4 linked regions of the Homo sapiens genome follow. The protein of the gene in region 4 purifies or fractionates together with the protein of the main gene of each other region. This does not show direct contact. Each region holds a gene or a part of one and is shown on either strand. Other genes may lie near its edges.

What was found.
Region 1: the proteins of H2BC1 (region 4) and TONSL purify together in Homo sapiens (affinity purification with mass spectrometry; 4 studies listed by BioGRID and IntAct, with this or other methods). This does not show direct contact.
Region 2: the proteins of H2BC1 (region 4) and MIER1 purify together in Homo sapiens (affinity purification with mass spectrometry; 4 studies listed by BioGRID and IntAct, with this or other methods). This does not show direct contact.
Region 3: the proteins of H2BC1 (region 4) and TCF20 purify together in Homo sapiens (affinity purification with mass spectrometry; 4 studies listed by BioGRID and IntAct, with this or other methods). This does not show direct contact.

What each region holds. Positions count from the first base shown.
Region 1 is NC_000008.11:144,427,253-144,434,488, reverse strand, and holds the end of TONSL (tonsoku-like protein), read left to right. Parts: intron 1-209; coding exon 210-511; intron 512-729; coding exon 730-901; intron 902-2,028; coding exon 2,029-2,204; intron 2,205-3,337; coding exon 3,338-3,411; intron 3,412-3,951; coding exon 3,952-4,085; intron 4,086-5,152; coding exon 5,153-5,346; 3' UTR 5,347-5,714; downstream 5,715-7,236. UniProt on the Homo sapiens protein: Component of the MMS22L-TONSL complex, a complex that promotes homologous recombination-mediated repair of double-strand breaks (DSBs) at stalled or collapsed replication forks.
Region 2 is NC_000001.11:66,955,231-66,963,329, forward strand, and holds part of MIER1 (mesoderm induction early response protein 1), read left to right. Parts: exon of another isoform or gene 1-2,828; coding exon 2,829-2,990; intron 2,991-3,620; coding exon 3,621-3,753; intron 3,754-4,448; coding exon 4,449-4,513; intron 4,514-7,857; coding exon 7,858-7,930; intron 7,931-8,099. UniProt on the Homo sapiens protein: Transcriptional repressor regulating the expression of a number of genes including SP1 target genes. Probably functions through recruitment of HDAC1 a histone deacetylase involved in chromatin silencing.
Region 3 is NC_000022.11:42,260,154-42,268,252, reverse strand, and holds part of TCF20 (transcription factor 20), read left to right. Parts: intron 1-8,099. UniProt on the Homo sapiens protein: Transcriptional activator that binds to the regulatory region of MMP3 and thereby controls stromelysin expression. It stimulates the activity of various transcriptional activators such as JUN, SP1, PAX6 and ETS1, suggesting a function as a coactivator.
Region 4 is NC_000006.12:25,721,448-25,728,525, forward strand, and holds H2BC1 (histone H2B type 1-A), read left to right. Parts: upstream 1-5,329; 5' UTR 5,330-5,461; coding exon 5,462-5,845; 3' UTR 5,846-5,898; downstream 5,899-7,078. Other genes in the region: H2AC1 (histone H2A type 1-A), read right to left, coding at 4,685-5,080. UniProt on the Homo sapiens protein: Variant histone specifically required to direct the transformation of dissociating nucleosomes to protamine in male germ cells.

The sequences.
Region 1 (7,236 bases), on a different chromosome or scaffold from region 4:
GTGACTGGTGGAGCTCAGGGTGCTGCAGACCCACCCCGGCCCCCAGGGCCTCACAGTGCTAGACCCACAGGCATGTGCGAGTGGGCTCTACAGCAAGTCTGGTGGGTGACCCCTGGGGCTGTTGAAAAGGGGCTGCCTGGTTTGCCCTCTGGGATTCAGAGGGCAGAAAGGGCCGGCCTTACCCTGGTGACATCACATCCCTCCCGCAGGGGAGCACCAACAGGTGCTGCAGGCCGTGGAGCTCCAGGGCTTGGGCCTCTCGTTCAGCGCCTGCTCCCTGGCCCTGGACCAGGCCCAGCTTACACCCCTGCTGCGGGCCCTCAAGCTGCACACAGCACTCCGGGAGCTGCGCCTGGCAGGGAACCGGCTGGGGGACAAGTGTGTGGCTGAGCTGGTGGCTGCCCTGGGCACCATGCCCAGCCTGGCCCTCCTTGACCTCTCCTCCAATCACCTGGGTCCCGAAGGCCTGCGCCAGCTTGCCATGGGGCTCCCAGGCCAAGCCACCTTGCAGGTATAGGCACAGAGAGCAGCAGGCCCTCAACAGCGGGGAGTTGGGGTTCCCATTCTGCAGGTCCCTGGGTGGTCTAGGGTAGTTGGGAGAGCCAGCCAGTGCCCGGCTGTAATAGGCTATGCCAGGCAAGGTGGGGAAGAGACTGCCAAGCCAAGCCCCAAGGGGGACCCTGTCCGTGGGACTGCTGGGGGCTCACTGCCAGCCTGTGTCTTCCACAGAGTTTGGAGGAGCTGGACTTAAGCATGAACCCCCTGGGGGACGGCTGTGGCCAGTCCCTGGCCTCCCTCCTGCACGCCTGCCCCTTACTCAGCACCCTGCGCCTGCAGGCGTGTGGCTTCGGCCCCAGCTTCTTTCTGAGCCACCAGACAGCACTGGGTAGTGCTTTCCAAGGTGAGCTGACCAGGCACTCCCTGTCCACTCCCTAGCCCTGGGGCATTGAGGGTTTCCAGGACTTTCAGAGGGGGCCCAGGCTGGGCACACAGGGGCAACACCTGTGGTCCCAGCTACTTGAGAGGCTGAGGCGGGAGTATCGCTTGAGCCAAGAGTTCCAGGAAAGCCTGGCCCACATAGTGAGACCCCATCCCTTAAGAAAAAAGCGTCTAGGCCGGGCGCAGTGGCTCACGCCTGTAATCCCAGCACTTTGGGAGGCCAAGGCGGGCAGATCACGAGGTCAGGATATCGAGACCATCCTGGCTAACACGGTGAAACGCCGTCTCTATTAAAAATACAATTAGCTGGGCGTGGTGGCCGGTGCCTGTAGTCCCAGCTACGCAGGAGGCTGAGGCAGGAGAATGGCATGAACCCGGGAAGCGGAGCTTGCAGTGAGCCGAGATCGCGCCGTTGCACTCCAGCCTGGGCGACAGAGCAAGACTCCGTGTCAAAAAAACGAAACAAACAACGTCTAGGGGCCTGGGATGCCAGACCTGGCTCTCCGGGAGGGCCTGGCACCTGGGAGCAATAGATGGATGTGTGGGTACAGGGTCTGCCTCCGAGGGGCGTCTGGTGCCCACCCAGCCAGGCTGACCCCCGCAGGACACACCGAGAGCAGAGTCCGGGCAGCTAGTGTCCTGTGGTCCCCATCCCGTGCTCGCCAGCTGAGTGCTGTTCGCCTGAGGCAGTTCCACTGTGAGCCCACTCAGGCTGCAGAGACTGGGGTCCCAGTGCCAAGAGGCTGGGAATTGGGTGTCATCCAGGGGGAGTGTAAGGGGGGCAGCAATGGTCAGTGCACTCCCCTGGCACCCCCACTGTGCAGAGGCATGTGGCCCAGGACCGTGTGGTTGTGGGGTGGGAGAGGGCAAGTTGTCCAGAACTGGGGGCAGCCGAGCTTGGAAGTCTGGCCCCGCCCTCCCAGCTGGGAGAATCTGGGCGAGAGCCTTTGCCTCTGCACTTGCCACCCCACCCTGCGAGCACTGCGGTAGTGGTTTCCCCAAAGGGGTCCTGAGGGTTCTGGGCCCAGAACTTGGGGTGGGTACAGGGCTGTGGCCACGTGGGGCTGACGGATTCTGGCCCCGGTGCAGATGCTGAGCACCTGAAGACCCTGTCCCTGTCCTACAACGCCCTGGGAGCCCCTGCCCTGGCCAGGACCCTGCAGAGCCTGCCCGCCGGCACCCTCCTGCACTTAGAGCTCAGCTCCGTGGCAGCCGGCAAGGGTGATTCGGACCTCATGGAGCCTGTATTCCGATACCTGGCCAAGGTACGAGGTGGGGAAGAACCCAGAAAATACTGAGCCTCAGAGGCCAAAGGTCCCAGGGTTGCTGGGAGGAGCTCGCCTCTCCCCAGATTCGGGCTGAACTCGCTGAGGGGCTCTACAGAGAGAGTTAGAGGTTTGGAGGTTTAGAAAAAACAGCTGGGGGGCCAGGCGCGGTGGCTCACGCCTGTAATCCCAGTACTTTGGGAGGCCGAAGGGGGTGGATCACAAGGTCAGGAGTTCAAAAGCAGCCTGGCCAACATGGTGAAACCTTGTCTCTAGTAAAAATACAAAAATTACCCAGGCGTGGTGGCGGGTACCTGTAATCCCAGCTACTCGGGATGCTGAGGCAGAGAATTGGTTGAACCCGGGAGGCAGAGGTTGCAGTGAGCCTAGATTGCACCATTGCACCCAGCCTGGGTGACAGAGCGAGATTCCGTCTCAAAAAAAAAAAAAAAGAAAGAAAAAGAAAAAAACAGGCTGGGCGTGGTAGCTTACGCCTGTAATCCCAGCACTTTGGGAGGCCGAGGCGGGCGGATCACGAGGTCAGGAGATCAAGACCATCCTGGCTAACATGGTGAAACACCATCTCTACTAAAAAATACAAAAAATTAGCCGGGCGTGGTGACGGGCTCCTGGAGTCCCAGCTACTTGGGAGACAGGCAGGAGAACAGCGTGAACCCGGGAGGCGGAGCTTGCAGTGAGCCGAGATGGCGCCACCGCACTCCACCCTGGGCGACAGAGCGAGACTCTGTCTCAAAAAAAAAACAAAAAAAGAAAAAAACAGCTGGGGGAATGCTTTTGTACAGCTGCCTGTCTCAGGCTGTGAATTCCTGCCCACCAGATAGGACCCGGGACTCAGGGTGATCTTGCCCCCCGCCAGGAAGGTCCCAAGGGGCACACTAGGGCCCCTGATGCTCTCTCCTGGGGGGTCTTCCAGGCACAACTGGGACCCTATTATTTTCACACTATCACGTGCAGAGTGTGACCCACATCAGGAGAGGTGTTTCCTTCCGATCTCCAACTTGATGGGGGACTCTGCTCCCTTCTGGGCCCCTGGGTGTGGTGCACCTGCTGGGAAGCAGGCAGGGCAGGTGCGCCACTCCGTTTGGCCCCCTTGGGCCTCTGCTCATGTCCAGGAAGGCTGTGCTCTAGCCCACCTGACCCTGTCTGCAAACCACCTGGGGGACAAGGCTGTTAGAGACCTGTGCAGGTAACGCCCTTTCCCTGCTGCCTGCTGACCTGGGGGTCTGATCTCATGGCTCTGGACCCTATGGGAGAAGGGCCACAGAAATGGTACCAGCTCCTCCTCCCCAGCACATCCCAAGACCTGGCTCCTTCGGTTTCCACCAGCCTCTCAGGCTGCCCTGGAAGGCAGACTACCCTCTGGCTTCTTTCTTAGCATGGGCCTGTGGCTCTTGAGAGCACTCCTCCGGGGGTGTCCTTGTCATTCCTGTGCCTCGGCCCACATGAGGGCACTGCTCTTATGACCTGGAGCCTCAGTCAGCTCTCTGGGGAGTGTTGAGAGGAGCCCAAGCTGGGCCAGGCACACCCAGAGCTGGCCACTGTGGCCCTGACCCCTGGGAAGGACCCCCAACCCTAGAGGGCCACCTGCTACTGGGCCAGGCTGAGGCAGAGCCCCTGGGTCTGGCCCGAGGCTCCCTGAGCTGGCATTTGTCTGGGCAGCTTTCCTAGTGTTGGGGCACAGCCTCTCTGGAAGCCAACCTTTGCACTTCTTCCCATGTTATCTCAGATGTCTCTCTCTGTGCCCCTCACTCATCTCACTGGATCTGTCTGCCAACCCTGAGATCAGCTGTGCCAGCTTGGAAGAGCTCCTGTCCACCCTCCAAAAGCGGCCCCAAGGCCTTAGCTTCCTTGGCCTGTCAGGTGAGTGCTGGTATGGTGGCCACGCCTGCCATGTTCGGCCTTTTCAGGGACCTGCCTGAGACCCAGGTGCCTCCTCCTAAGGGGCTGTCACTGCTACCAGCCAGGCAGCAAGGCTGGGCTCCATGAGGCTGGGGCAGCAGGGGGCAGAGTGACAGTGACAGAAAAGGGGCATGATCCCAGCTCCTAAAACCATGGGTTAGGGGGCGAGGTGGGTATCTGCCTCTGGTCTCTCCAACCCAACCTTCAGAGCAGACTATGGTAGGCAAGACCCTGTTCCACAGGGACTTTCTTCTTGTCCCTGGCAGGAAAAGGGATCCCAAGGTCAGGGTGTTGAAAGCTGCCAAGGGACCCTCCTACTTCCTGGCAGGGGCTCCTCTGACACAACCCTGCCCAGGGCTGTGGTCTGATTTAGCTTGTTCTCTCTTGAGCCACATCAGGGCAGTCCCCAACCTGAGCTGTCTGGAAGACAACCCCAGGAAGGGCTTTGATGACCTGGCTTGCCCCACTGGGGCCGGGGCAGGCTGTGCCCTCCAGGGGATGAGGGCTTAAGTGAATGTGCACGAAGCGGGGCTCTGCTTTCTTCCTGTGCCCCCTCCCCTTCACCTCCCAGGGCCAGGCCGCCTTTTCCAGGAAGGCCCCCGAGTGCTGGTGTGAGACCCCTTCCCCACACCTCAGTTCCTGGCATCTGTACCTTCCCACCCAGCTCCCTGAATTCCTGAGCTTAGTGTTCTCTTGATCCACTCAGGCCCACGATGTACAGATTTGCAAGCAGATCCATTATGTCCTTCTTATGGGTGGGGAGACTGACGTGTAGGCATGGACTTTGAGATCGGGCACTGTCAGAGGTAAAGAAGGGAGCCACCCTTCCTCCTGTCTGACCGCTGGCTGTGCAGATGATCCCACCCCTTCCTGGAGAGTCATGGGGCCTCTCCGGAGCTCTGCCCACTGCCCCTCGCTACAGCCCTGGGGCCCTCAGCGAAAGCGAGTTTGTTCCCTGGAGCCTGCCGCGGGCACCAGGACGCCGCCGGCCCCCGCAGCGCTGAGGTCTGCCCTCTTCCCCTCCGCAGGCTGCGCCGTCCAGGGTCCCCTGGGCCTGGGCCTGTGGGACAAGATAGCCGCGCAGCTCCGGGAACTGCAGCTGTGCAGCAGACGCCTCTGCGCTGAGGACAGGGACGCCCTGCGCCAGCTGCAGCCCAGTCGGCCGGGCCCCGGCGAGTGCACGCTGGACCACGGCTCCAAGCTCTTCTTTCGGCGCCTCTGACCCTGGCGCTGCCTTTCCCCACCCTCACCGAAGCCCCTAATAAATGAAGCTGCTGGCCGGGCGCGGTGGCTCACGCCTGTAATCCCAACACTTTGGGAGGCCCAGGCGGGCGGATCACGAGGTCAGGAGATCGAGACCATCCTGGCTAACATGGTGAAACCCCGTCTCTACTAAAAATACCAAAAATTAGCCGGGCGTGGTGGTGGAAGCCTGTAGTCCCAGCTACTCCGGAGGCTGAGGCAGGAGAATGGCGTGAACCCGGGAGGCGGAGCTTGCAGTGAGCCGAGATCGCACCACTGCACTCCAGCCTGGGCGACAGACCGAGACTCCGTCTCAAAAAAAAAAAAAAATAAAATAAATGAAGCTGCTGCCTCCCTCCCCGTGGCTGCCTGGCAGGCGGGTGGGCGGGGTAAGACCGGGCTTCGAGTCTGCTGCGCCGGTTACGTCCCGGGGGCTGCGCGGCTGGAGGGAATGTCCCGAAGTCCGGGCGGGCGCGGGCGCAGGCGTGAGGGCTGAGCGCCGAGCTGCCGATGGGGACGGAGGGGCGGGGGGTCGCCCCGACGCGCGCAGGCGCAGACATGAGGGGCGAATGCCGAGTCGCTGACCGAGCGCACCCCGCCCCCGGCGCCATCTTCCCGACCGCGAGCCGTCCAGGTACCCGGGGCCCGGCCGGTGGGCGGGGAAGGGGCAGAGTGGGGAGAGGCGACTCAGGGCCTGGCACCCTCTGGGCGCGCCTAGGCCCCGGCACAGCTTCGGCTGAGCGCCGCAAAAGTCACGTTATTGGCATGTTCTAGAAACTGGCTTTCCTTGCTCGTTGTCCACTCTGCGAGGTTGTTTTGCACATTTGCTTGTGGCCGCAGAACGTCCGCTTTCGCTGTTAGGCAGAAGCTCCTGCGTGGTTGGGGCGGTTGGCTCCTCGGCGCTCTCCTGCCTGGCGGCTCCGTGACGGCTGCCGAGCAGCCTCGGTCCCCACCCCGCGGCTCGCAATGGCCTCGACCCTCGGAGAGCTTGACCCAGACGTTCCCTACCTACATGAGCGGCGACGCCCTTTCCCGGCTCTTCCTCGGCTGGGGCGCCCCAGGGCTTCGGCGCGGGCGGCCTTCCCTCACTTCTGCTCTTCTCCCATCCCCGGTAGCACCGTCCACTCCCAGTTAGCCGGCTCAGCGCTGCTCTCCCGGGCCTCTCCACCGAGAGCTTCCTGCGCCTGCCCGCCAGGCCCGCTCCTCCTCCCCTCTCCGTCTGAGTTTATCTTACTGCCCGGCCCATTGGGCCAAAAACAGGGGTGTCGTTCGTAACTCCTTTATTTTAATCCTATCTCAAATCCCTCGGCGGATCTGACGGCTCCACTTTCAAAGAGAGAACGTCTGGAGCTGGCCCAGCTTCCGTGCTAGGCAGGACCCTCCCACGGGCCCCGCTCCCATTGTTTCTCCACAGCTCGCTGCCCAACTAGGGGCACCTCTCCATCTTCATTCCCTAGGACCCCCTCTTTCGAGAAGCTGCACCTTCAGCTTGTTGGTTCCTCCAAGTTCATGCCTACTTAAAGGCGGGCTGTTAAGTGTGTTGTTTCCTGTGCCCCAAACTCTCCTCGTGGGCCATCAAACAGCTGCCTGCCGCCCTCATAACCTCCCTCAACCTCCAGCTTGAACCACACTCCACTGCAGCCCCCGCCCCGCTCTCCTGAGTGTCCATAGTACCTCACTTTTTCTGGTAGCCCCTATAGCACCCTGTGTGTTCACCATTATTGAGCTTAGGAGAGCTCTTCATGGAGCCCTGGGTCTCCAGGACCTGGCACTTACGGGCTGTCTTTTTTTGTCGGTTTTTTTTGTTGTTCGTTTGTTTGTTTTGAGACAGGGTCTTGCTCTGTCTCCCAGGCTGGAGTGCAGTGGCTCG
Region 2 (8,099 bases), on a different chromosome or scaffold from region 4:
TATTACCTCCCATTGGAAAGGGTGATTTGCAGGTATCTTATCCCAGACCTGTGAGATCAGTGGTTTTCAAGGTAGTCTCATACCAGCAGCATTAGCATCACCTGAGTTTTTTTTTTTTTTTTTTTTTTTTTTTTAATTGCAGGTACTCGGGCCTCACTGGAGACTTACTAGGTCAGAAAGTTGGGTGAGGCTCAGCAGCCCATTTTAGTAAGCCCTCAAGGTAATTCTGATACCCTTAATAAGACAGACCAATCGTAGAGAGCCTGAGGGCATTTGTTTGGTTGCTAATACACCTTTTTTTGGAGTGAACGAAGTACCATGATCTTGTCAGAAGATGAGTTCAAAATAGAGCATGGCTATGTAATTAGCTGTGTGGTTTCAAAGGATTAGTTATAACACAGTTATAAAAATTAAAGGTAGTGGTTAACAGGATAGTTTTGAGGATCAAATAAATAATGAAACAAGCTTTTCATGAACTCTTAAGGCCTATGTAAATTTCAGTTGCAAACTGTTAACGCTTATGTTTTTTTCCTTTTGGGGCCCTTATTCATACTAGTGACTTCAGTGGCTTTTATTCACAATAGTGATCAGTTGCTAAACTTGCTTCTGATTTTGGGGTGCAGGATATGAGCTTAAGAAACGTTACATGACCTGAGATTAGGAGGTCTGGGTATTATAATAAAGTATCAGTGCCTGACGTTTCTCTGCCTGGTTTCCTTATTTGCAAATAAAGGTAGCAAGCACTCCATTTGGTACTTCTAAAGATCTAATGAAATTGTGTGTGTTGACACTGCTTTCATGGTTGCAAGAGAAAAAGACAGTGAAATCAAAGCATCTATCATAAATGCCTGACACATAGAAGATACTTTATGACAGCTATTTGTTATTCTTGTATATAAAACTAGCTTTAGGCTGGGCACGGTGGCTCATGTTTCCAATCCTACATTTTGGGAAGCCAAGGTGGGCAGATCGCTTGCATCCAGGTGTTTGAGACCAGCCTGGGCAACATGGTGAAACCCTTCTCTATGAAAAATACAAAAATTAGCCAGGCATGGTGGTGCACATGTATAGTCCCAGATACTTGGGAGGCTGAGGTGGGAGGATCATTTGAAGGTTGAGGCTGCAGTGAGCAGTGATCATGCCACTGCACTCCAGCCTGGGTGACAGAGCAAGATCCTGTCTCAAAAAATAAATCTAGCCTTTTCATTATATTTCTCTTACTACACTTCTATCTCTTATTTTGAAGTTTTGTTTTAGTTCCTGAGTATTGACTCTCCAGATTCCCAAATACCAATGTCCTGTACCAGATTCTTGGTACATGGACCAGATACTTGAACACTTAAAGCACTGTTGGTGTTGTACTTTGAGAGACACAGTGTAAGAGCTGTCATTTGTTTGCCAGCTGGTTATTTAGCTAGAGTGGCAATACCTTGCCTTGATAAAGTTACCGCTTTTCAGGTTGTAGCTTCTGCAAATCATTAGGGGTCTTGGAATTGATTTATCTTTCAGAAATAGATTCACAAACTCATTCATAACCAGAATATCCATTTGTAATGGGAAATAGAAGTTTTGGATGACAGTTTCTTCCTAGTTCTTCCTAAGAAAATCTTTTCAAATGATAATCATTAATTTCTTCCCACACATGGATTTTGAGTGATGCAGGTTAATTGTATCATCTAATCCAGTCTGATTTACCCATATCCATTGTAGCAATGTGTTTAACACATGAGCTAGACTTACTTCTTTCCATGACTGCTGGAGAAACATAAACCATGTCTTATTTCATGATTACCCTTTTTTTTCTAGCTTCTAAACTGATTGTTTTCTGACTGTTTTGCTTCAGACCATGTGCATTGTATGTGGGTGTGCATGAGTGTATAATATGTTCACATGATTTGGATTAAATTTTCTTTTTATAATCAGAATTCTGTTATGTTTCCCTGATGCTGTGCATTTCTTGTTTACTGGTTAGAGTGAGTAGTTTGTATAGAAAGCTGATTTCATTTCATTGTGTATGGACATTTCTTTTTCATCCACGGAGGGTCTGATTTTTGTGGGGATTGAGGGAAGTCCCTGCCCAAGGCACCATGGTGTATTGATATGAATATGGGCTTTTGGAGTTAGACTGTTTAAATCTGGCTCTACTACTTGTAACTTGTGTGATTTGTGAAGAAATGCTTAACCTGTCAGCCTCTGTTTTCGCATCTATGAAATGGAAATAATATAACAAGTCCGTATGATAGATGGTAAGGATTTCATGAGATGATTTTATATGTAAATGGAGATAACCATAGAGAAGAATATATGGTTAATGTAGTCCATTATCATTTCTGTATATTACTACTGGTTTGTTTGTGTTTTTTTTTTTTTTTTTTTTCATGTGTTCGGGCTGAGCTCTGAATTTTCGTCTGCCTTTCTGGGTTTGTTAACTTATAGTCTATTTCTCATTGTTCTATTTCTCCACCCTCAAGTTAAGTATGGTACTCTTATTAAGAGTGGGCATCCATGCATAGCGTTAACTGTCATTGTGCATATACTGAATTGATTGCAAAAAGAATAGTCCATGTTAGACCAAGGCCACTTTTTAATTATACTTAAAGATCTTGTTGTCAGCAATTATAACTGGTTCATTTTATAGAAATACTTAAAAGATTGGGATATTCCTAGGTTTCAGAAATATTTTCAGTTTTACTTTTTATGATCCGAGAATTCGTAACACAGCTTTTATTCTTCACTATAGAATGAATACTCCACAGATTTGTGGATTATAGCCTGGGAATCAGAAATATCACTGATTCAGAGATTACCTTTTATTTTGATTTATTTAGGAAGGCGACATGCCAATTCATGAACTTCTCAGCCTTTATGGTTATGGTAGTACTGTTCGACTACCTGAAGAAGATGAGGAAGAGGAAGAAGAGGAAGAAGAAGGTGAAGATGATGAAGATGCTGATAATGATGACAACAGTGGCTGTAGTGGGGAAAATAAAGTAAGTCTATATACATATATTTAAGATTGTAGTCTTTATTCTTGTTGAAGTTAAAATTGCTTAATATATTTTGATTACTTGTCTTTATAATCTTTTCCTGATTTTAAAAGTGTTAAAAATTAAGATATTACAGAAATACATAATATAAAAATTGGAAATCCCCTGTAATTTACTCCTGAGGTAACAGTTTGGTCTTGTCATTTCAGGTTTCTTTTTTTCCAGTGCTTATTCTAATTAATTTATACCAACTTTCTAAAAAAATGCTATTGCTTTTAAATAATAAAGGCTAATTGGCAGTTTGTGTTTATTTTTCTTACTTTATTTTGAAATAATTTTAGATTTATAAAAGGTTTAAAGTTAGTATAGAACGTTCCTGTATACTCTTACCTCAACTTCTGCTAAGGTTAACATCTTGGTACAGTGCTATTAACTAAACTGCAGATTGAATTATACCAGTTTTTCTGCTAATGTACTTTTTCCTGTTGCAGGAACCAACCCAGAGGATGATACTACATCTAGTATATTCATTTTAGTCTTCTGCATATATTAGAACAAAATTTATATGCTATGGTCTTTCATCTGCAACTGTTTTCCTTACATCTTAGAGAAATTTAATTTATTATTCCACAGGAGGAGAATATAAAGGATTCATCAGGTCAGGAGGATGAAACTCAGTCTTCCAATGATGATCCATCACAATCTGTTGCTTCTCAAGATGCCCAGGAAATAATCCGCCCACGTCGATGTAAATATTTTGATACAAGTAAGTGTTACTGGTTGATAATATTTGAATATAATTTTTACTATTTTAGGTATTACCTAAAATCCTCTTTTTTAAACTGGTCTTTGAATTCATTTAGTCTGAAATTCTTTTCAACAGTAAATGGATTTTGTTGTAAGTTATTAGTTTAGCAATGCAGGGTCCCTGTTGTTAGTGAATATACTATGGTAATTGTGTCATGTACTACTTGACTTTGGGTGTATTTGTTTTTTCTTTGCCCTGTTTTTAAATGTTTGTTTCATGGTCATCTTTTTGTTTCTCATAGTCTTTCCCTTAGTTTCCATTTTTTACTTTCTTTGCCTCTTAGCCTTTTTTAGGTATATTCATAAATACACCTAAATTTCTCTACTTTAAAAGGAAGAAAAACACTTGAAGAAAAATAAACTGTCATGAAATATGTAGTAAGATAATATTATCTTTATTCTAAATCAGTTTTTTCCCCTAAGTTTTTATAGGAAATCATTTCATGAGAATACAATTATGTAGAAAGTTTATGGTTTTTTTGGTTTTGTTTTTTTAAGTGATAGGGTGTTAATTATTTGGTTAGAAATATCTTGGCTTAATTCATTAGATATCTTTGAGCATATCCAAATATTTGATGGTAGATGTAAAAATAATATGTAGATTTAGACAGGATAAGCAGTCATTTTATAGTATTGGTGTCTTATTTATTCTAGATAGTGAAGTAGAAGAAGAATCTGAAGAAGATGAAGATTATATTCCATCAGAAGACTGGAAAAAGGTAGTTAGAACAATATTTTCCCAAAATTTAGATAAATTAATATTTTTTTAAAAAGCCTCGTGTAATTATTTTTTTTTTTACTAACTATGTATATTGATAAAATCGATGTAAGCCCTTTTATGACATTTAAATGTTTGGTAAATGTTCAGATTCCTTCTTAACACATCTAGGTTAGATTAGAAATCTACATTTCTGGCGGGGTGTGGTGGCTCACGCCTGTTATCCCAGCACTTGGGAGGCTGAGGCAGGCGGATCGCTTGAGCCCAGGAGTTCGAGACCAGCCTGGGCAGCGTTGCGGGACCCTGTCTCATTTTATAAAACAAAACAAAAAATAAATAAAACAGAAATCCACATTTCTGATTTAGTCCTGAACTAGTGCCAAATTAGGCATTTGTTGCCCTGTAAAAAGTATCACGTATATGTTTTTCAATATTATGGAAAGCATTTGTGGAGGCTTTGATATTTGTTAAGTAAATTTTGTTTAGTAGTTCATATTGCAAGTTTTTCATTCTGTATTACTTTATAAAAGAAAAACTCTCCAAATGATTGAATTTAATGTTGACATTTACAACTGATAAGCTTATTATATGAAGAAACAGATTTGGCTTCTTCGTAACTATATACAATTAATTTCTGAAATGAATCTAAAGATAATATATTGAGATTAGTTTTTAATTATAAAATTATATAGCATATAATTAATCATACAGTTAAGTTAAAGAATTGTAAGTTATTGTAAAAGAACTGAGCTCTTAGGAAAAATCTATCTAAACATTATGTAGAATTAGCTGGTTGCAGTGATGTTTCCCCTGTTGTCCCAGCTACTTGGGAGGCTGAGGTAGGGAGAATCACTTCAGCCCAGGAGTTTGAGACCAGGCTGGGCAACATAGTGAGACCCCATGTCTTCAAAAAAATTTTTTATGTAGAACTGGTTAAAACAAAGAAATAATGTTATTTTTGTTGAGAGACAAGGTTAGCCCAGTTTACGGTATGTGTTAATTTGAGCAAATGATGGGACTCGACAGAAAACAAGAATCACAAAAGTTAATTTGTGTGGCCTATTTGGGCAAGGGTTCTTTCATCCTGTTTTTAATCTGATTCCTACAGTGTGCAGAAATTAAGATGAAAAAAGCTAGAAACCTTGGGAGTCCTTATAAATTGCTGTCCCACTTCATATTCAAGTTTATGTATCTTCAACATGTGTTGTTTTTTAATCTGGAGTGTTCAGTAGAGTATTTGATTAAGCATTCAGTGTTTTTTTTTTAAATGAAAGAACAAAAGCTCAGAGGTAGAACACCTCTCATTGCTGGAGGGTATTAATTACCCACACCTTACTCAGAAAGGGTATTAATTAACCACACCTTTCTCAGAAAAAAATTATGTAATAAAGCAGGCCAGAGTAAATGCAGATTGTTTTCTTTCAGTATGATTTTGTTGTTTTAAATAATTGTCAAGGTTCAGAGATTCATTTTTTTTTAAGACTTATAAGATGAAATTGAGTTTTTATAGAAACTTAAGGTAGGGGAAACAGTTTTGAAGTCAAACCTGAATTTTAGTTGTAGCTCTAGAACTTAGTAATTGTGTGCTCCTGAGAAAATCAAATTTTTGAGCTTCATCTTCTTACATATAGTATGGGAATAACAATGTCAGCCTTATGGGGCTTGCTGAAAGATTAAAGGAAAATTGCATATATGATATGTTAACACATAATGATCTTCAAAGCTATTTCCCTTCCCTTCCCTGTACTACCGAACAAATTAACAGATGAAAAGAAATGTTCAGAACTGAACAGGAAAAAGGAAGTACCTATCTTTAAACTAATCCAGATGTTCTCAACCCTGTTTTTATGTTAGAATCATTTGGATAACTTAGATGTACTGACTACCAGGGCCTTCATTCATAGATTCTAATTTAATTGTCCTGCAGTGGATCCAGGCATTGATGGTTTAGAAGCACCCCAGCCAGGGTTAGTAACTTGACAATGTTCTTTGGTAGGCCTAGGTGAGTTAAGTTAAAAGAGGCACAAGATGTGACAATAAAGGACTCTTTTTATAGTAGAAGACATAAAGAGAATTCCATTGTAAGGGTAGAGAAAATTTGTTGTAAGTTTGATTCTTTTTAGAAAACTGATCATGAGAAAGATTGGTTTTTCTTATGGGTATAGAAATAACTTTATTACATAAAGCACGTCTTTGAAGTTGTACTGGATAAAATGAGCTCCTCACATCAGTGAGGTAACAATAGCAGGAGAGAGACTTTCCAAATCCTAAGAGTTACCAAAACTTCTAGACCATGATTTTGTACCTTTCATGCCCAATTTTGAAAATGTCAGTAAATGTGTTCTTAACATTTAGCCATCACACAAAAGAGGGTTCATGTAATCTTGGTCTCCTTGCATTGTGAAATTTCACCAGTGGTAGTTTGCAGTTGCTTTTGAGAACATCCAGTTTCACCTAATCTGTGATTTGACTGTATAGATATGATTACTGGATTTCCTATTTAATTATATTTGTGGGAGGAGGTTACTTTTTCATTTTGTATTGTTTTAATGAAAGTCAAGCCATAACCTGCTTATCTATTTCATTTAGAGTTTCTTTCATTTGGCCCCTACTGAGCTTTATACAAACCCTTTTTGTTATTTTTCCTACTTTGAAGCTCTGTTTTTCAGACTTCAGTCTATGTCAGAATCACCTAGAGAGCTTGTTAAAATACCAATGACTGAGTCCTGTCCCCAGAGTTTCAGTAGGTTTGGGGTGGGACCTGAGCATTTGCATTTCTAACAGTTTCCCATTAGCTGTGTGTGGTGGCATGTGCCTGTAGTCCCAGCTACTCAGAGACTGAGGTGAGAGAATTGCTTGAGCCTGGGAGGTCGAGGCTGCAGTGAGCCATGATCACTCCAGCCTAGGTGACAGAGCAAGACCCTGTCTCAAAAAAACAAAAATTTCATAGATGACACTGATGCTGCTCATATAGGGATCATATTTAAGACCACTGTCTTAAGTGTAGATACTCTGAAAATATCTGAATTTGACTTTGTGTTTTACATGTTTTGCAGTTGTCTTACTAATGGAATTATCAGAATTCACTTCTTTGTCTCTATATTTTGAAATAAAGTTTGTATTTATTGTTTACGTTGCATTTCACCTCAGTATTATTACTAATATTTTCATCCAGTCATTATTTGTCATTCATCTTCACAAAGGTACCTCTGAGGTAGTTAATTGGTTGTTTTTGTATTTTATGACAGAGAAACCAGGAACAGTTTACTAAGATGGTAAGGCTAGAAAATGGATATAAAATCTGTTACTAGATCTTACTAATGTTTTATGTTATTTTTAAAATAGGAGATTATGGTGGGCTCCATGTTTCAAGCAGAAATTCCAGTTGGCATTTGTAGATACAAAGAAAATGAAAAAGGTGGGTTATTAGTAAAGTTACGTAGCTGAATTTATGCTTTCAGTGTAATGAACTGTTACTTTATATGTAAAATGTGATAAGAACATGACAGCCTACTAAGTAACCCCATTGTAACCCCATTGGTTTGTGAAAGAGGACCCTTCATTATTTCTGTGAGAAGAATGTGTGT
Region 3 (8,099 bases), on a different chromosome or scaffold from region 4:
CCGGATATGAGCCCAATATGTTACAATATGTCTTTCTCAGATCACTTTTTATTTTTATATATTATTTAATTTTTAAAATTAAATCCCCTTTTATTTACTTATTTATTTTGACACAGTGTTGTTCTGTTGTCCAGGCTGGAGTGCAGTGGCACGATCTCAGCTCACTGCAGCCTCTACCTCCCAGTTTCAGGTGATTCTCCTGCGTCAGCCTCCCGAGTAGCTGGGATTAGAGGCATACACTACCACACCCGGCTAATTTTTGTATTTTAAGTAGAGACAACATTTCGCCATGTTAGCCAGGCTGGTCTTGAACTCCTGACCTCAGGTGATCCGCCTGCCTTGACTTCCCAAAGTGCTGGGATTACAGGTGTGAACCACTGCGCCTGGGCTAGATCACTTTTTGATTCAGTCTCTTTGAACAGTTTCCAAAAGGATCCCAGCATAGGGGCAGAGTGCTTATAATTATTGACTTCGGAGACAGTTTGGTAGTAATTTTCTTGTATGTTACCATCAGGCCTATCACACAAGTAAACACTTTTTTGTTTGTTTTTTTGAGACAGAGTCTCTCTCTGTTGCCAGGCTGGAGTGCAGTGGCACTATCTCGGCCCACTGTAACCTCCGCCTCCCGGGTTCAAGCAATTCTCCCACCTCAGCCTCCTGAGTAGCTGGGACTACAGGTGCGCACCACCACGCCCAGCTAATTTTTGTATTTTTAGTAGAGATGGGATTTCACCATATTGGGCAGGATGGTCTCAATCTCTTGACCTCATGATCCACCCGCCTTGGGCCCCCAAAGTGCTGGGATTACAGGTATGAGCCACCATGCCCAGCCCACAAGTAGACACTTTTATATAGCCACACAGATTATTTGTGATTTTCTAGAATAAACAGTTTGTTAGGATTTGAATTATGACCTTGCGTTCAGTGTGGTGTTTAAAAAAACTCCGATTACTCAAATTGGTTTTGTTTTTTCTGTTGTTGTTTTGAGATGGAGTCTCGCTCTTGTTGCCCAGCTGGGAGTGCAGTGGTGCGATCTTGGCTCACTGCAACCTCAGCCTCCAGGGTTCAAGCGAGTCTCCTGCCTCAGCCTCCCGAGTAGCTAGGATTACAGGCATGCGCCACCTCGCCTGGCTAATTTTGTATTTTCAGTAGAGACGGGATTTCTCCATGTTGGTCAGGCTGGTCTCAAACTCGACCTCAGGTGAGCCGCCTGCCTCAGCCTCCCAAAGTGCTGGGATTACAGGCATGAGCCACCGTGCCCGGCCTATTAAATTGTAAGCAGTTATCATGCTCACATGTATATTACACTTGTCTTATAAAACTTACAAGGGAAAAAATTGTTATAAAATTTTCATTCTACAAAGTAATTTGTGTGTATTCACGTGAGAGGTTGCCAAAGTTGGTAAGATATCGGGAGACATGGCTTTTAGGTTCCATAACCTAGTAGTGGTATACTTTTTTGTTTGTTTGTTTTGAGACGGAGTCTCGCTCTGTTGCCCAGGCTGGAGTGCAGTGGCACAGTCTCTGCTCACTGCAACCTTCTCTTTCTAGGCTCAAGCGATTCCCCTGCCTCAGCCTCCCGAATAGCTGGGATTACGGGCTCCTGCCACCATGCCTGGCTATTTTTTTGTATTTTTAGTAGAGATGGGGATTCGCCATCTTGGCCAGGCCAGTCTCGAACTCCTGATCTCAGGTGAGGTCAGGAGGTTATCAGCCTGCCTCAGCCTCCCAAAGTGCTGGGGTTACAGATATGAGCCACTGCACCTGGCCAACTTTTTAAAACTCTGTAAGATAAAATGGAATGTAATTGAAATGATCACACTTAATTGGAGTTGGACTTTTTCTCATGAGTCCAACCTACCTTTCATATAGGCAGGAAAAAATGCTGGCATTTGTATAAAAAACAAGCTTTTGTGCTAGACTCTGTCCAAGGCATTTTAAATTGTGTTACAATATCCACCCAGCTGACCTTAGAGATAGATGACCTTTCCTTTCCCTGAGAGCTGGTAGAGCTAATGAGGCTCAAGGCTTAGATATAACCCTCCTGCTGTTGGCTCCAGAGCCTGTGCTGTACTAGGTTTGTTGCCTGCTCAAGGCACAAATCAGTCAGTGGTAAGTGCGGCCCTGGAATCCATATCTTCCTGCTGTGCCCCTCTTTTTTTTTTTTTTTAATTTTAAAGCTATGATGAACCTGAAATCTAGATTTAGGTGAAATACTGGAAAGGGTGGTTTTTGTGACTGCTTATGGTTTTGTGACCCCCTGGGAGTTCCCTAAACTTTTACCTTGCCCATACTTGGTCAGTTTTGCCAGTGTACTTGAGATTTAATCTGTGAAAAAATTTCTCTTTTCATACTTAATTCCGTCATTCTGTCCTGAGCTGAAAACTTTGGTATCAGCTTAAAGAGTAACATAATACGTAAAGGGCTATCTCTTCCTGACTAGTTTACAATGCACTAGAATCATTTTGTATGGTGACTGCTCTCACTCAGTTCGACTGGGTGGGACTCAAAAGATATATTTACCAAAGACAGTTCTTTCCACAGTATGCCTTAAGCCTTCTTACTCATGGGGACTTTGTGTTCAAGGCACCTTAGTACTCATTCATTCTGTCTGGGGCTTTGTCTCTGCTGTCTTCATTTTCTTTTTGTGGAGGTAAAAAAGTAACAAGATAAAGCAAAACAATAAAACCATTGAAGTAAAACGGTACATGACAGTGATACCTTTGAAATACAGTAAGCCTGGGCAACATAGTGAGACCTGGTCTCTGCAAAATAAAAAAGGCCAGATGTGACGTGGGTGCCTGTAGTCCAGACTATTCAGGAGGCTGAGGTGTGAGGATCATTTGAACCTGAGAGGTTGAGGCTACAGTGAGCCATGTTGTTGCCATTGTACTCCAGCCTGGGAGACAGAGCAAGATCCTGTCCAAAAAAAGAAGAAAAAGAATACAGTATACTGAAATCAAGGTATTTATAGTTAGTAGAGCATAATTTGGTCACATTGCACTGGATAGTTTTTGATTATTGGTTAGGCTGTTGAAAGTCCTGTAATACCCTTGGTACATGTGGTATGGGTGAAAAGGTTCTCATGGCGACAAACACAATCAGTACTTTCTGTGTAAGAGCAATGTTTGCTTTTTGGGTAATATGCGTGACCCAGCAGGAAGATGAACTATAACATGAGTTAGCTGGTATATCCGTGGCTTATTATCTGGTGTTTCATAGTGGGGAATTAAAACTACTAGGGAAAATATCATTATTGCAGTATGCATATGTAAGCTGTTCTATAGGAAAGAGTAGAAATTCATTGGAACATTTGATATCAGTATGATTGGAAGATGGTTTCCACTTTTGAATGTCATGTCCCTGAATGTGGATTAAGGTCCGCGTGCATGTGTGTGCTAATTTGCATTAACAAGTATTTACAGGCATTCTAAGTATGGGAAATGTGATGGTGGGCAAGAAAGAGCCTACTCTGGAGACAGACTGTAAACAGTAAATAAAAATGTCAGGTGATGATAATAGCGGTGAAGAAAATAAGAAAACAATGTGAAATAACTCAGGGGATGTTACTTTAGAGTGGTCACAAAGATAATCCCTGTTCTGAAGCCTTTTCTGCCAGTAGGGCAGTCGAACTTGATCTGTGGGCTGGATGAAAATGACATTAAACAAAGTAAATAATTTGTTTAGCCCTGAGCATCTTGAGAAGTTAATCCAAAGGATGGAAGTGGGCTGGTTGAAGTGTTCCCTCTGTTTATATCTTTTTGGTTTGTGAATAGGGACCTGGCTCAAAAGAGCTTAAGGGAGATCATTAGTGGTACCTTGTAAAGGCTAAGAAAGAGGAGTGTTGTCTGCTTTTTTTAAAAAATCATCCTGATAAAAAATGTGGAGATGTATTGTAATATTGGTGAGTGTTAGACAGTGTAGGAAACATTCTCTGGTTATGTCTGTTTCTCCCCCCTCCCCCACCCTGCCCCCGCCCCGCCCCCGCCCCACTTTAGATCTAGACCTGTAGATGTGTTCATGTTTCTGTGTTGGGGATCTTCTGTTTGGGTAGGGGGGTGGGGATGTCAAGGAAAGCAAGGATAGCTCTAAGCAGAGGCTCTGGCAAGGGAGGGAACTGTGCGGATCAGAAAGGCTTTGTTAACCATAGCCAGGAGGGCTCATCCTCTCAGTCTTTCCCAGCCAGCTGGCATCCAGCGTGCCTTCTCCCATCCTTTCCATACTCTCTGATTATAGAATTTTAGAGCTGGAAGACACCTAAAAAATTGTCTAGTCTAACCCTTTGGCTTTACAACTCAGGAAGATGCCAAGAGGCTGGTCATTTACCCAAAGTTATGTGGCTTTATACTGACAGAATCAAGGGTAGGACCTATTCTTTGCCATCTATGCCCCACGCTCTTACCAGCATAGTTCACAGTGGCTCTTGAGTGGAAAAAGGAAGCTCCTGGGTGTTAATGTACTCGCTTAGGAAAAAGCCTATGTAGTTCCAATCTTAAGATATCAAGGAGAGATGGCACACATCAAGCTTGAAAGCAGAGACAAAATTGTACTGCTGTTAATTTTCACAAAGATGTGTAGTGTTGTCTTCTTAGGCCCCATTGGTTTCTCTCATCCTAATTATGCCTTGGTCCAAAATAGGTGACATGGAGAAACTTCCTTGGCCATGATCAGATTTAGTTCATTTAGAGTGAGGCCTTTTGGATGTAGGGTGAAACTCCTGATAGGTGGCTAAAATGGGTTTCTAGAATTGAAAAAGAGTTAAGGCTCCAGCAGCTTACCTCCAGACCTCAGTTTCAGGGAAGCCAGATTTCACTGCTGCATTTAGAAGTGCCCTAAGGATGAAGCACTACTTTGAGAGTCTGGAGAATGTTCACTGTGCTTGGCAAGAAATAGGGATTCTTGAGAAGTCAAGCAGGGGTACTTCTCTGGGCGTTTCCCTGACTTAGTGCTGTGGGAGACCAATTACCTGAGGCCAGATTCTGTATCCCTTTGGTAGTGATGTGAGAGGATATTATTGCTGAAGAAAGTCCACGTGATGGAAGGCAGCAGAGCGTGTGAAGGAGGATGTGCAACCTCATCCTGGCTCCATCACTTGCTATCAGTGACTTTTGGCATTTTGCCTGAGCTGTAGTTTCCTTATCTGTGCAACGGAGATATATCTTCTTTTGGGCTGTTGGGGGAAGGCACTAAAATAGGAAAAGTATATGGTGAAGTGGACTGCCTGCAGGTGGCACTCAGAATGGTAGCTGTCCATTAAACCATCAGTCTATGTTGTGCTATGTACTAAGACACTGGACTGGTCTTAGTCCAGTGTCTAAGAGCAGGGCTGGTCCGTGCTAATTCTGTTGATTTTATGTTCTCAAATATTGGCCTAGTATATAGTAGAGAAGGGCAATTAAATAGGGTTATCAAAAGTATTCTCATAAGGGGAATAGAAGATGCTGTACCAGGTGTATAACCCTGACTTGAGAGGTCACTGGAGGGTTCTCAGAGCGGGACCATGTATTTCCTCATCAGCCTGCTGAGCTCAGTGTCTCTTCCCACCTCTGGTTGTTTGTCCTCTTATGCTTGACCATTGGCATTCTCCAGACCCTATTTTTTCAGTGTCCTTTCTCCCTCGGTGATCTCTGATCTCCCCAGGCTTTTGTTTGTTCATAAGATGATGATCCCCACATTCACATCTTCAGCTAGATGTCTTCTAGCGCCTTCAACTCCTGCTCGACACAGCGGCTTGACCATCTCACTGGTATTGTGAGCTTAAGTCCAAAACTGAACACTTATTCCTCACAAACTCTTTGTCCTGCATTTGTCCCCAACTCTGTAAGGGGCTCTACCGTTTACCCGGTTTCTCAAATCAGATTCCTCCTTTTCTCTCACCACCCTCTACCTCTAAATCTATCATCAAGTTACTGTCAGTGCTATTTCCATAAGATGATAACTTCTTTCATCTGTACTGCCACTACCCTCTTTACCTCTTACCTGGAACATGATGATGGCCGCCTCATTTCTGCTGGTGTCTGCCTCTATTCCACTTCACCCAGAGCGGCCAAGAGTCGTATGTGTCTGCTTAAAATCTTTTAATGGTTTTCCATAGCACTTAGATTCCAAACTCCCCCACATGGTTCACAAGGGCCAGAATAATCTGGCTTCTGCCTGCCTCTCTGACCCTCCTGCTGCTTTTGTTCACGGCCCTCCAGTCACATTCACTTTTTTTTAGGCCCCAGAAGGTAGCAAGCTCTTTCCCACCTCTGGAACTTTTTTCGAGATGGAGTCTTGCTCTGTCACCCAGGCTGGAGTGCAGTGACTCAATCTTTGCTCACTGCAACCTCCGCCTCCCAGGTTCAAGTGATTCTCCTGCCTCAGCCTCCCGACTAGCTGGGATTACAGGCGCCCGCCACCAGGCCCAGCTAATTTTTGTATTTTTAGTAGAGACAGGTTCCACCATGTTGGCCAGTCTGGTCTTGAACTCCTGACCTCGTGATCTGCCCACCTCGGCCTCCCAAAGTGCTGGGATTACAGGTGTGAGCCACCATCTGGAACTTTTTTATATACTGTTTCCTGTATCCATAGCACTCTGGCAAGCCTAGCCTTTTTCTCATCCTTCAGGATATTTGTTGAATGAATAAGAGGCAGCAAAGGGGATGGGGCAAGGAGGAATGTATCCTGAGTGCATCCACAAAGGTCTCAAAAAAAAAAATGTAGAATGAAATATGTTTGAAGAGCTGAAAGACTGTGAGTTTGATTGTGGCATAGGTAAGAGTTATTTAAGCAAAACACGTAGGAGTCAGGCAGCTGGAACTTGAATGCACTGCTGATGGGAGTATAAAATGATGCAACCACTTTGGAAAACTGGCAGTTTCTCAAAAAGTTGAACATACATCTGCCCTGTGACCCAGCAGTTTAATTTCTAGGTATTTATCCAAGAGAAATGAAAATGTCCACAAATAAGACTTACATAAGAATATTAATAGCCAAATAATAACCAAAACTAAACAGTCCAGATGTCCATCAGCGAGACAGTAGATAACAAATTGGCATGTTCATACAATGGAAGACCACAAACAAAAAGGAACAAACTACAGATACGTGTAATAAGGATTAATCTCACAAATATGCTCAGTGAAAAACCAAAAATCATATGTAATGGGTGATCCCACTTAATGGACATTCCAGAATGGGCAGAACTTATTTATGTACTAGATTTCAGATTGGTGTTGCTTCTTGGGTAGAAAGGGATTGACCAAGAGAAGATGTGAGGGAACTTTTTAGAGTATAGAAATGGTTAGGTCTTGATAGGCATTCATCAAAACTGATTAAATCATATGCTGTATGTGATTTGACTGTAAAAATCACCTGTAACCTGCAGCCAAAAACAACCCAGGAATTGTTCTAGATTCCTTTTCCCCCTCACTCTCAACATCTAATTGCTCAGCAGGTTCTGTTCGCGTTATATTCAAAACATAAGTTTGGGCCAGTCGTGGTGGCTCACATCTGTAATCCCAGCACTTTGGGAGGCTAAGGCAGGTGGATCGCTTGAGTCCAGGAGTTTAAGAAAGGCCTGGGCAACACAGTGAGACCCTGTCTCTAAAATTTTTTAAAAATTAACCAGGCATGGTGATGTTCATCTGTGGTCTCGGCTACTTGGGAGGCTGAGGTGGGCGTATTGCATCTGCGAGCTGTGATTGTGCCTCACAAAAACCATATACATATATGTATCTCTCATGAATTTGTTCCCTCTCATCTCAAGAACCATACCCTCTTATCTGAACTGTATTATTAGTTTCCTGTTTTTCCTACCCCCTATTTTTGCCTTCCTCCCAAACCATTTTTTCCACTTATCAGCTAAAGTGATCTCTTAAAAATTCAAATTGGATTATGTCAATTGCCTTCCTAAAATGCTCCAGTGGTCTTTCATTGCTTTCATATGGTGGCCAACAGGGTCATATCTAACCTTTGCCTCCTTCTGAAACCATTTGACCTGGTCTCCTTCTTGCTCTCTAAGCTACAGGTTTGTTCACCTTCCCTCTTGTTTCTTGAACTCCTCAAGCTCATTTCTACCTTAGGACCTTTACACTTGGCTCCTTCCTGTGTCTGGAACA
Region 4 (7,078 bases):
GTGGTAGGGGTGATTACCTTTTTCCAAGACAGACATATTAAAATATACACTATAATTGTGAATGTATTCTTTGTCATACATTTCTGCTGTTTGTTTTCTATAAAGCTGTGTTTTGGGGTGTTAACACAATGAGAAATAGTGTATCTACCTATATTTTCCGCTTTTAATTTTCAAATTACTTTTTCATTAAATATTATCTCTGCCATTAATTTTGCAAAATAATTTTTTTGGGGGACAGTTTTGTCTGGAATGTAATTTTTCCACTCCTTTTCTTCTAAATGTTCTTCTGTGCCAATAAATTTTAGGTATTTTATAACCAAGGTATAGCTGTGTTTTACTCCTAGTCAAATACTGTCTTTTAAATGGCAAATTTAATCGGTTAAACTTCATTTTGATATTTGGACTCATTTCTAATGTTTGACTTTGCATTCTAATTTGTCATGCCAGTCCTTTCTGATTTCCTGCTTTCCACTGGACTATTTTTTTTTTTTGCTATTACCTTCTTTCTAGTCTACATTAATTTTATTATTTTAGTGGTTACATTTAATATCATAAAATATAAACCTGACTTAAGAAAATATAACAATCAGTATGTCTGTCCTCCTTATAAACAGTACAAGGACATCAACATGCTTTAATTTGTTTCAGCCCCTTTCATCTTCTGTAACTACTCTCCAGTGTTTTTGGTTTTTTTTTTTAATATTCTAGTATTATTGTAGGTTTTTTTTTTTTTACAACTAGTGTATTTATTTAGATAGATTTATACTTTTACCTCTTCCTTTGGCAATATTATTGCTTATTGCATCTCAGTCTTTCTTCTGAGTTCAGTCTTTTTATTTCAGTACATTCTTTAGCATTAATTCTTCTAGTATGAATCTGAGTGGCAAAACTTTCCAATCTTTGTCCAAAAATTATTTCACCCTTACACAAAAAAGAGTTCATCTGAGCACAGAATTTTAAATTGAAAGGTATTTTGCTTTAGAACTTAGAAGGTGTTATTCTATCGTTCCATGACTTCTGTGATTTCTGATGAGAAATCCATAACATTGTAGTGGAGGAAGCAAAACTTTACTTCTACCCTCAGGATATTTTGGTTGGGTTTGAGAATTAAATTGACATGAGAGGTCAACAGGAGAAAAGCATATAAATTTATTGAATGGAAGTTTTACGTGGCACAGGAGTAGGAAATGAAGACCCGAAGACAAAGAATGGAATGCTTATGTGAAGAATCTGACAAAGTGAAGTAAGTTGTGAAAATGTGACAGCAAAGGGGCTTGGGTTAGAGTAATTAATTAGGTGGAGAAGTGACTAGAGAGGTAAGGGTTGGTGTAACAAGGTTTATTTGTACAGATTTTCCTTGGCCTTAATTTTCTGTCCTTGATGAGAATGATACTTTCCTTCTGGTATAGGGAGGGCATCTTTCATCTCCTGCTTTTAAGAAACAAAAGGAAGGTCAGAGTGTATGTGCATCTGCTGTTTTTCAAGTGTCTATCTCCAAATAGTCAATATGTCAGAGTGACATATTTTGAAATGGTGTGTTCTGAATTCCTTCAACGTGATTTATCATAAAAAGTAAAAGGAGGCTGAGCATGGTGGCTCATGCCTGTAATCCCAGCACTTTGGAAGGCCGAGTCGGGCGGATCACCTGAGGTCAGGAGTTCGAGACCAGCCTGCTGAACATGGCAAAACGCTGACTCTACTAACAATACAAAAAAAAAAAAAAAATTCGCTGGGTGTGGTGGCAGGCGCCTGTAATCCCAGCTACTCAGGAGGCTGAGGCAGGAGAATCGCTTGAAGCCGGGAGGCGGAGGTTGCAGTGAGCTGAGATGGTGCCATTGCACTCCAGCCTGGGTGATAAGAACAAAACTCCGTCCCTGCCCTCCCCACCCAAAAAAAAAAAAAAGTAAAGGGAAAAAAGTGGCATATATTTGTCTCAGTTGCTGCTGAAGTTTTATTGTTAATAGCCAATATTTATTTTTAATTAACAACTTTTAGCAATTTTGGAATTACACAAATCCCATAAAAACCCAGCATTAGGCATAAGACAGTGTCATATTAGTCTGATTATAATAAAAAATAAGTCAGCCGGGCATGGTTGCTCACGTCTGTAATCCCAGCACTTTAGGATAAGGCCAAGGTGGGTGGTCAGGAGTTCGAGACCAGCCTGGCCAACATGGTGAAACCCCGTCTGTGCTAAAGATATAAACATTAGCCAGACATGATGGTACATGCCTGTAATCCCAGCTACTTGGGAGAATGAGGGAGGAGAATCGCTTGAATCCAGGAGGCAGAGGCTGCAGTGAGCTGAGATCAGGCCACTGCACTCGTCTGTGCGACAGAGGAAGGCTGTTGGGGGGGAAAATAAGTCAATATCACCATTTTTATTATCACGTGTAACTATTAGACAATGCATTTAGACAAAGTCAACTATTTAAAACAACAGGACAAAATTATATGATTTTTCTGCCTACCTGGAAAACCACAGAGGAAAAAAGCTGGACAACAGAAATGACAGAATAAGGAAGGAAATACAAACCAGTACGAATATCAAGAATGTTCTATCTGTAAAACATCGTCAATCAGAAAACATAATAAAAGAAACCCTTCTAATATTTCCCCAAAATACAGTAATAAAAAAGAATACCTGGAGATAAACTCTATGAAACGTGTGAAAGTTCTATAAGAAGAAATCAAGGCTGGGTGCGGTGGCTAACACTTGTAATCCCAGCACTTTGGGAGGCTGAGGCTGGCGGATCACCTGAGGTCAGGAGTTGGAGACCAGCCTGGCCAACATGGCGAAACCCTGTCTCTACTAACAATACAAAAGTTAGCTGGGCGTGGGGCAGGCGCCCGTAATCCCAGCTACTCAGGAGGCTGAGGTAGGAGAATCACTTGAACCTGGGAGCTGGAGGTTGTAATGAGCCGAGATCACGCCACTGCACTCCAGCCTGGGTGACAGAGCGAGACTCTGGCTCCAAAAAAAGAAGAATCAGAAACTTCTGTAGGTAAATTGTTTTGAAAAATCAAGGGGGCATGTCTCCTGTAACATGTATTCACAATTTTTTAATATATTTTATTCTATCTAAACATTTAGTTTAATGCAATTTTAATAGGATTGCATTAGAGATAGAAATAAAAGTATTATGTAGTGCATTTGGAATAAAAGAATACACAGGTTCTCTTCTATAAAGTCAAGTCCCTCCTCCTCTGCCTTGGCAAGTCTGAGAAGTTAAGTGCCACTTTCTTGACAAAGTATCTACATTAATTACTTGGAATTCATCTGTTTAGGTTTGTCTTATATCCTGATTTTAAGTTTTACATTTGCCATGTTCTAAATATTACCCAGTTTTATTCAACATATAGTTGCCATTTCTGTTTTCAAATATCTTCAATTTTTGCCGTCCCTAACTGCATCCCTTATTTATTATGTATGCAGGTTAATTCATACTTTTGTAACTTGATTGTCCTTACTCGGCATGTTTTATTTTATAGAACTTTACCTGCTTCTATACATGCCTTATTATGTGTAGACATCAAGTGTTTAGCAGTTTTTTTTTTGGTAACCAAATGATTTTTTTTTTTTTTGAGGTAAGGTCAACTGTTGAATATCGTACAATAATTTTTAATTTAGTTATTTGGCAGCGTTACTGAATGGGTTTTGCTTTTCACTTTCTCTTGGTGTTTACAGCACAAACTGCAAACACAGATCAACAAACTATTTTGCCTCTTTTCAACAGTCAAAACTTTTGAAGCATATACTCTTCCAAATTTCTAAACTTCAAATTATGTTCGGCCTTCTAGTCCCATTCCTGCCTGAGTCTAACACTAGTATCTCACCATCACATATGGCGTAAGGCTTCTTTTTGACATATTTTACTTACATTTTAAGAAATAATTCTATTATTCTTTACAAAGTACGTGAAACCACAGGTATCAAATATATATGCTTACCCAAATTTTAAGATTAACTTACTTACATGCCACATTTAATTATGAGTATTTCGTGAAACTACCATATTTGAAAGGAAATTCTCTAAAATGTACTTTAACCAGCCAGACTGATGTTACCTGGATTTAAACAGGAAGATTACACCTCTCCTGCTTGTAATGCAATTTTCACTTCCATGTGTAACCCTTAACATAACTAACATACATAAATCTAGTTTGAGATAGTCTCGCTCATGTCACCCAGACTGGAGTGCAGTGGAGCAATCAATCTTCGTTCACTGTAACTTTCGCCTCCCGGACTCATGAACAACCCTCCCACCGCAGCCTCCCGAACAGCTGGGACTACAGGCCTGCATCACCAGACCCAGCTAGTTTCTGTGGGGACAGGGTCTCAATTATGTTAACGGTCAAGCCCCAGGCTTGAACGACCCTCCCGCTCCAACCTCCACTGAAGTGCAAGTACTGACTGCTCACAAGCGTTAAGCCACCTCGCCCAGTGACATATATAACCAAAATTACCTCAAACTAATGGCCGATGGAACGCTCCTTGAAAATTCAGTCCCCGTACATTCCCGAAATGCGCTTAAACGGGCATTTGTGACAGGCAAGTAAGATGGCTGGTTAACAGCAGTAACGTTTTGTAACGTACAGCCTTTTTCTGAGACGGTAGGTGGCTCTGAAAAGAGCCTTTTGTTTTTTCTGACACAGAAGTCTTTTTACCAATGACAACCTTAAGTTACTTGCTTTGGGCTTTATGGTGGTGACTCTCAGTCTTCTTGGGCAGCAGCACTGCCTGAATGTTAGGCAGGACTCCGCCCTGGGCAATGGTCACGCCGCCCAAAAGCTTATTGAGTTCCTCATCATTGCGGATCGCTAGCTGCAGGTGGCGGGGAATAATGCGAGTTTTTTTGTTATCGCGAGACGCATTGCCTGCCAGCTCAAGGATTTCTGCTGTGAGATACTCTAACACTGCCGCCAAATACACTGGTGCGCCTGCCCCTATCCGCTCTGCATAGTTTCCCTTACGAAGCAGACGATGGATCCGGCCTACGGGAAACTGCAAACCCGCTCTAGAAGAGCGAGACTTAGACTTGGCGCGTGCTTTTCCTCCCTGCTTCCCTCGTCCAGACATCTCCTCGCATCAAATTGCAGCAACACGAGAACCACATTTCTAGGGCTGCTACTGGGCCTATTTATAGTCTGACTGAGGTTGGCATTTGCTATCTGATTGGCTGATGGCCGTCTACCCAATCAGAAAGTCGTACTAGAATCGCCTCATTTGCATTCACGCCACTTCCCATTGTCCAATCAGATTTTGGATACCGAACGCGGCGTTTGAGGGCCGTGCCTATAAATACCGCATCTTTCATCCTCCAGTTCTGTTTGTTTACTTGGCGAGACTTGGAGCTGAGGTCATTTGGAGCTGTTTAATACTGAAGAGCTGTTGAGCACTGGAAAGTGCTGTGTAACCCTGGAAAAGAACCGTGTAACGCTGCAGAAGTGTGTGGTAGCTATGCCGGAGGTGTCATCTAAAGGTGCTACCATTTCCAAGAAGGGCTTTAAGAAAGCTGTCGTTAAGACCCAGAAAAAGGAAGGCAAAAAGCGCAAGAGGACCCGTAAGGAGAGTTATTCTATTTACATCTACAAAGTGCTAAAGCAGGTCCATCCGGACACTGGCATCTCTTCGAAAGCTATGAGCATTATGAATTCCTTCGTCACTGATATCTTTGAGCGTATAGCGAGCGAGGCATCACGTTTGGCTCACTACAGCAAGCGCTCCACCATTTCTTCCAGAGAGATTCAGACAGCAGTGCGCTTGCTACTGCCGGGAGAGCTGGCTAAACATGCTGTGTCTGAGGGCACCAAGGCTGTCACTAAGTACACCAGCTCCAAGTAAGCCTGCTAAGTAAACGTCATTTCTAACCCAAAGGCTCTTTTCAGAGCCACTTAAACATACTGAAACAGCTGTGGGCTTCGTTTTTGTGTAGTTTCTAACCGTAAGGGTTTTTTTTTTTTTTGAGGCGGAGTCTCACTCTCCCAGGCTGGAGTGCAGTGGCGGAATCTCGGCTCACTGCAAGCTCTGCCTCCTGAGTTCACGCCATTCTCCTGCCTCAGCCTCCTGAGCAGCTGGGACTACAGGCTCCCACCACTACACCCGGCTAATTTTTGTATTTTTAGTAGAGACGGGGTTTCACCATGTTGGCCAGGATGGTCTCAAACTCGATCTGGTGATCACCCACCTCGGTCTCCCAAAGTGCTGGGACTACAGGCGTGAGCCACTGCGAATATATCCAAATCAGCTGTGGGCCGAGGGTAGACGAACTAGTTGCAGCAAGACAATCCTTGCTAGGCACCGTGACTCGCCTGTAATCCCAGCACTTGCAGAGGTCGAGGCTGGCGGTTCATGAGGTTAAGAGACGGAGACCATCTTGGCCAACAAGGTGAAACTCCGTCTCTACTAAAAATACAAAAATCAGGTGGGCGTGGTGGCGTGCACTGTAGTCCCAGCTAATTGGGAGGCTGAGGCAAGAGAATCGCTTGAACCCAGGAGCCGGAGATTGCAGTGAGCCGAGATCGTCACTGCACTACAGCCTGGTGACAGCGAGACTGTCTCAAAAAACAAAACAAAAAAACCCCCTAGTTTGTATAAAAGCTACATGCTGATACTGGTATATTTAAGGTTAGCATTACACATAATAAAACTAAAAAGCGCAGCGACATAGACAGTATAACTTGCATTATGATCCCAAATTTTAAGACCTCACAAAAAGGGAATAGTTTAGAGGAAGTTACGTTTTGTGCCACAGGTAAGTCAAGGTGTGGAAATGATTGTGCGAACTCTGGAGAACTCACAAATCTGGTTAGCAGGAATTAAACGGATTTAAAATGTCCCTTAATTTTCTTAAATTTATAATAGTTTCCTTCATTGTCATGTTACTGGTTGTTGGACTCCATCTGTAAGAGCTCCCAAGCATTAAACTGATTTCAGCCACCTTAAAAATGGATCAAATATTACTTCCTGGAAACCTGTGGTTAGCTGGAATTCTCAATTTGTTTAACGCATCTTCATTTAACCTTTATCTTTTAACAAAATTTTGGATATGTATATGTGCTTTCTCTACATTAAAAA